2 linked regions of the Homo sapiens genome follow. The gene in region 1 interacts genetically with each later gene. Each region holds a gene or a part of one and is shown in the gene's direction. Other genes may lie near its edges.

The links. Genes that interact genetically often act in the same process or in processes that back each other up.
Region 2: changes in MED24 (region 1) and GATB together harm fitness more than expected from each alone (negative genetic interaction), as found in Homo sapiens cells (one large-scale study listed by BioGRID).

Annotation. Positions count from the first base shown.
Region 1 is NC_000017.11:40,047,909-40,051,408, reverse strand, and holds part of MED24 (mediator of RNA polymerase II transcription subunit 24), read left to right. Parts: intron 1-3,500. UniProt on the Homo sapiens protein: Component of the Mediator complex, a coactivator involved in the regulated transcription of nearly all RNA polymerase II-dependent genes.
Region 2 is NC_000004.12:151,754,508-151,758,007, reverse strand, and holds part of GATB (glutamyl-tRNA(Gln) amidotransferase subunit B, mitochondrial isoform 1 precursor), read left to right. Parts: intron 1-3,500. UniProt on the Homo sapiens protein: Allows the formation of correctly charged Gln-tRNA(Gln) through the transamidation of misacylated Glu-tRNA(Gln) in the mitochondria. The reaction takes place in the presence of glutamine and ATP through an activated gamma-phospho-Glu-tRNA(Gln).

The DNA of each region.
Region 1 (3,500 bases):
CTCTTGACCTCGTGATCCTTCCGCCTCGGCCTCCCAAAGTGCTGGGTTTACAGGCGTGAGCCACTGTGCCCGGCCGCCCAGCCTTATTTTTATTTTTTGAGAAGGAGTCTTACTCTGTCACCCAGGGTGGAGTACAGTGGCACAATCTTGGCTCACTGCAACCTCTGCCTTTCGGGTTCAAGCAATTGTCCTGCCTCAGCCTCCCAAGTAGCTGGGATTACAGGCGCCCACCACCAATCCTGGCAAAATTTTTTTTTTTTTTTTTTTTTTTTGAGACAGAGTCTAGCTCTTGTTGCCCAGGCTGGAGTGCAATGGCGCGATCTTGGCTCACCGCAACCTCTGCCTCCCAGGTTCAAGCGATTCTCCTGCCTTAGCCTCCCAAGTAGCTGGGAGTACAGGCAAATGCCATTACACCCGGCTAATTTTGTATTTTTAGTAGAGACTGGGTTTCTCCACGTTAGTCATGCTGGTCTCAAACTCCCGACCTCAGGTAATTCGCCTGCCTTGGCCTCCCAAAGTGCTGGGATTATAGGCGTGAGCCACCACGCCCAGCCAGAAGTGCAGATTTCTTATGTGCATACATTGCATCGTGGTGAAATCTGGGCTTTTAGTATACCCATTACCCTAGTAGTGAACACTGTACCCAATACGTAATTTTTCAACCCTCACCCCACTCCCACCTTCCCACCTTTTATATTCTCCAGTGTCTGTTAGTTCACTCTATATGTGCACACGTTGTGTAGCTCCCACTTATCAGTGAGAATATGTGGTATTTGACTTTTTTTTTATTTACTGAGACGGAGTATTGCTCTGTCGCCCAGGCTGGAGTGCAATGGCTGATCTCAGCTCACTGCAACCTCCTTGACTTTCTATTCCTCAGTTATTTCACTGAGGATAATGGCTTACATGTATGAGCACTTGAAGTACAATTTCTACTGAATGTGTATCTCATATTTTTTTTTGAGACAAGGTCTTACTCTGTCACCCAGGGTGGAGTGCAGTGGCGTGATCTCTGCTTACTGTGACCTCCACCTCCTGGGCTCAAGTGATTCTTCTGCCTGTCTCCCGAGTAGCTGGGACCACAAGCATGCACCACCACACCCAGCTAATTTTTGTAGTTTTAGTAGAGACGGGGTTTTACTGTGTTGGCCAGGCTGGTCTCGAACTCCTGACCTCAGGTGATCCGCTCACCTCGGCCTCCAATGAGCCACCGTGCCTGACCTGAATGCGTATCTCTCTTTTTTTTTTTTTTTTTTTGAGACGGAGTTTCACTCTTGTCCCCCAGGCTGGAGTGCAGTGGTGCGATCTCGGCTCACTGCAACCTCCATCTCCTTGGGCTCAAGCAATTCTTCTGCCTCAGCCTCCCGAGTAGCTGGGATTACAGGCGTGCACCACCATGCCCCGCTAATTTTTGTATTTTTAGTAGAGACAGGGTTTCACCATGTTGGCCAGGCTGGTCTCTAACTCCTGACCTCAAGTGATCCATCTGCCTCGGCCTCCCAAAGTGCTGGGATTACAGGCTTGAGCCACCACGCCCAGCCTGAATGTGTATCTCTTTTACACCATCATAAAGTCGAAAAATTAAGGTGGGGTGTGGTGGCTCACGCCTTAATCCCAGCACTTTGCAAGGCCGAGGTGGGCGGATCACGAGGTCAGGCGATCGAGACCCTCCTGGACAACATGGTGAAACCCCGTCTCTACTAAAAATACAAAAATTAGCTGGGCATGGTGGCGAGTGCCTGTAATCCCAGCTACTTGGGAGGCTGAGGCAGGAGAATCGCTTGAACCAGGGAGTCAGAGGTTGCAGTAAGCCAAGATTGTGCCACTGCACTCCAGTCTGGTGACAGAGCGAGACTCCATCTCAAAAAGTAAAATAAATAAAATTAAAAAATAAAGTCAAAAAATTGTAAGGTGAACCATTGTTAAGTTGGGACTGTCCTTGCTATGGGAATACATGGGAAAGGCACCCAGTCCAGTGTGAACAATCAAGGAAGGCTTTGTGGAGGAAGTGATGTTTAAACCAAGACCTGAATGTTGAGTATGAGTTAGCCGGCACATTGAGGAGAGTGTGTGTGCAAAGCAGAGAAAAGCATATGTACACGGTGGGAGGCAAAAATCACATAATGTTGTTCAGGAACTGAAAATAATTTGGTATGGCTAGAGAAAAGGAGTTTGCTCTCAGGACCCCTTTTTCTTTTCTTTTTTCTCCTTTTTCTTTTTTTGTATTTTTTGTGGAAACGGGGTCTCACTATGTTGCCCAGTCTGGTCTTGAACTCCTGGCCTCAAGTAATCCTTCTTCCTTGTCCTCCTAAAGGCTGGGATTATGAGTATGAGCCACTGTGCTCAGTCCCTGGACCCCTTTACAGTCTTCAAAATTTTGAGACTTTTCTTAAATATATTTGATTGTATTTGATCTCATGCCTCCCTAAAATGTATAAAACCAAGCTGCACCCGACCACCTTGGGTACATGTTTTCAGGACCTCCTGAAGGGCCATGGTTACTCATATTTGACTCAGAATAAATTTCTTCAAATATTAAAACATATATATTATTGGCCAGGCATGGTGGCTCCTGCCTGTAATCCCAGCACTTTGGGAGGCTGAGGTGGGTGGATCATCTGAGGTCAGGAATTCAAGACCAGCTTGGTCAACATGGTGAAATTCTGTCTCTACTAAAAATACAAAAAATTAGCCGGGTGTGGTGGTGCGCACCTGTAATCCCAGCTACTCAGGAGGCTGAGGCAGGAGAATCGCTTGAACCCGGGAAGTGGAGCCTGCAGTGAGCCAACATCATGCCACTGAACTCCACCCTGGGTGACAGAGCAAGACTCTGTCTCAATAAAAAATAAAATGAAATAAAATTAACTGGTCTCTTTGTTGCACCTTGAATAGATCTTTTATCTATGCATGATTTTTGTCACATCATGAATTGGTAATTTGGACAATATCCATGACTAAGTTATATAGATATTACAGTTGTTGATGCATTTAATAATATCATATTCTCACATGTTATGGAGCTTCCAGGACAATCCACTGTACAATTGTGAGAGAAAAAGAGCAAAAAGGTAAACAGTATCTTAGTAGTATTTTAAAAATAATTTTGACTTCCTAGACCCCCTGAAAGGTCTTGGGGACCCTGGGGAGTTCCTGAACCGTACCTTTAGAACTGCTAGGCTGGCACTTTAAGGAGGAGAGTGGTTTAGGGAGAGAGAATGATAAGATTGTAACAGACTTTTGAGTGATGCTAAGGAATTTGGACTTTATTTTAGGGTGACAAATAATCATTTAAAGGGTTTTAAGTGGAGGCGTCACATGACAAGACTTCCGTAAAAATATACATATTTTAATTAACATAGCATAACATACAAAGATCTTGCGCTGGGCGCAGTGGCTCAATCCTGTAATCCCAGCACTTTGGGAGGCCGAGGCGAGTGTATCACCTGAGGTCAGAAGTTCAAGACCAGCCTGACCAACATGGTGAAACCCCGTCTCTACTA
Region 2 (3,500 bases), on another chromosome or scaffold:
TATATAATTGGTTGAATTTTTAAGAAAAGTATGAAGGGAACAAGTAAATGTTTTAGCTAATAAATAGCATATGGTCTGTCCAGGACCTATAATATCAACTGTGTTTGGGGTTTCCTGCCATCTTTGGAGGAAATGTGTATCCATGGTGGTGACAAAGGTGGGGAGAGGCAGACATTGTCATGGGTAAATTCCATGCTCTCAAACATTTAAATAAGAGTGGAAGCTGGTTGAGGCCGGGCGCGGTGGCTCACGCCTGTAATCCCAGCACTTTGGAAGGCCAAGGTGGGCGAATCACAAGGTCAGGAGATCGAGACCATCCTGGCTAACACGGTGAAACCCCATCTCTACTAATAGTAAACTGCAAAAAATTAGCCGGGCATGGTGGTGGGCTCCTGTAGTCCCAGTTACTGGGGAGGCTGAGGCAGGAGAATGGCGTGAACCTGGGAGGCAGAGCTTGCAGTGAGCTGAGATCGCGCCACTGCACTCCAGCCTGGGCGACAGAGCGAGACTCCATCTCAAAAAAAAAAAAAAAAAAAAAAATCTGGAAGCTGGTTGAACTGAGCACTGGCAGGCTTGCAGAGGTATACTTTTCTCAGTCACTGACCAAAGTGGAAGATTCTGGGCAGTGCCTCCAGTATGCCTGCCTCACTCAGCTTTGGTTGTATTGGGGCAGCATCTTTGTCTTGGAACTTTTCTCTTATCGCATTTTCTGTCATGGAGGACTCCCTTCCCTGCAGACCATATCAAGGATCACCTTTGATTTGCTGCTGGGTCCCTCTGGGAGAAGATAGATGTGGAGGTGTGCCCTCTTTCTCTCTCTCTGACTTAGAGATCTATCTATGGAAAGATTTTTTGTTTATTTGAGAAGAGTGAATATTTTGGTTATAAATATATGACATCTTTTTTGGGCAGAGATTCAGATATAGTAGAGATACAATAATATTTATTGTAAAATGGAAGGCAAGTTGTCATAACACCTCTACATTTTCCCTTCCAGATTCAAAACATTTTTTTCCCATGTTGTAGTTAATTATCAAGAGATTAGGCATAAGCTCTGAGTTCATCCTAGGTTTTTCCAGCTGTGAATGTGATGGCTATCAGGCCATACTTATTACAGTTCACTTTAGAAACAGGTCCATTTGCAGATAAGCATGTTTTCTGTATATAGACTCTCCAGCTGTACCTAAATTTGGTCAAAAATTAGACCAAATTAGAAAAATTCAAAATAATTAAAATGCCAACATTTTAATTGCTTTGTAAAACTTGTCATGCACCAAAAAAGAAGGTGCTTGTTCACTGATAAGCATATCAATAACACAGTGAAGGTGTTTGGGACATTTGAGTGTTGAGAGCTTGGCTTACATTAATTAAATGGCAGACAAAGTCTGGAAATACAGTTTTGTATGAGCTAGGATTTGTTTTCCTCTTCAGAGCCTACAACGCTTATGGTTTAAGTAGCCTAGATGGGTTATTCTGTAGACAGAGGAGATCTACCTCTTCTTCAGAAATGTTTCTGCCTTTAAGGGACCTCATTTTGTACGTGAGCAACATTATACCCAAACTCCCAGAATTAAGCATTGCCATTCAAAACATTTCAAAATCTTTTGATTTACCTCTAAATAGATTTAAAATACACTAAAACCTTTAGACAGTTGTCCTTCCCCTAAGCCCTATGGAGATGTATAAACATGCTCTGATAGCCAGACTCTGCTTATAACTCCATTCATAAGAAACCAATAATTTGAGAATATGTTTGTGCTTCCGAGGATTTTAGTAGAACATTATGTTATTGTTTTGGTCAAGTAAACCAAAGTGTAAGTGTGATTCATGATGATACTTGAAACTCTTTCTGCGCAGGGCTTATATTGCTCCCTTCTCTCCTGCTTCTTCCCCGCCCTCTACCTGGCTGATTGTGCCTTCTCACATGGCTGTGTTCTGCCACTCAGCCCTGAAATGTTGGTTTCCCATGCCCTATTCTTTGGCTCTCAATTCTTCTGTTACCTGTGTTCCCCTGAGTAATCTTTTTACCCTCAAATAAAGCTCCCCTCTCTCTTTTAGGCAAGAAACCTATATCTATTGTGTCCTACTATATATTTCCATCTGAATGATTCATAAACATCTTAAATTCAGCAGTTACAGTGTTAAGCCTGTTATCTTTTCTCCCCAAAGTTTCACTGCCTCCTGACGAAAGAATAAACCAACAAGGGAAAATATATGTAAGAAGAAGCAAAAATCAGTGGGAAAAGGATAAGTTATTTAACTGATGGTTTTGGAATTGGTTAGCTATTTGGAGAAAAAGTATCGCTCATTTCACACATCAAAACAAAGTTCATATATATATAATATAAGTTAAATGTCAAATTAAATCCAGAAATATCTAGGAGAATATTTGTTTGTCCTTGGGTTGGGGAGAAACTTTGTAGGCATAAAAGCAAGAAAAAACAGCTAATTAGGCAAAATGGCAATTTGACTACTTTATTCGCCCAACATGTTTATTGACGTAGTAATTCTTTTAGGAATCTGTCCTTGGAAAATAAACATGTGGGCAAAGACTTATATGCAGAGATGTCTATAGCAGATCTATTTTTAAAGGTAGAAAATTGGAAGTAACCACAGTTTCTCAGTGATGGGGGAATCATTGAGTAAATTATAATACATCAGTACAGTACAACATTATGAAGCCACTGATAATGTTTATAATAGACTTTTAGTGACATAGGACAATGCTAAAGATAAAAATTCTAGTGAGATGAATAGAATTTTCATGTAGATTACTTAATCTTCTTTGCATCAGTTTCTTATAAAATGGAGATAATTGACTCATTGGATTTGTGTGAGAATTAAATGAATCAGTACCTTTAAAACACTTAAAACAGTAATTGCATGTAGTAAGTGCTCTTATTAATTAACAGATAATTAACAAGTAATAACAGGTAATTAATTAAAAAGCTCTTAATAATAGGTAAGGTAAATCTTACCTGCTAGCATACCCATAATGATTGGTGGCTTTTATCTTTACAAAGGCTCTCCTGAGTTATTGTGCACAGTTACGTTGCCAGTGAGAGCAAAAGTAAATGCTACACATAACAATTGGTCACTTAACCTTGATTTCACCAGTTAAGTGATCTGCCAACAAAAACTAACCTGGGTATCTCATCACCTCAGAGATGTATAGAGAATTAAGTAAATAATGAAAACCAGTAAAAACTAGTATATGGATAAAATTATTTCTGAATTAGAAATCATTACTTTTATTGCGAAAAAGAAGGCTTATGAGCTTTTTTTTTTCCATCTGTAGTTATTTGGAGTGTTTCTTTGGTTCAACATGGTATTGGCTCTTGATTTAGTAAAAAATTAGGATTGTCACTTAAAACAATTGTTATAATGTATAGTCTTTCTGTAGACATTTCATTCTTCTTCTCTGTCGGTTGTGTCTTCATTCACTCAGCTGGCATATATTGGATGCCCACGTTATGCTAGCCCTTGTGTAGCTCTAGTGA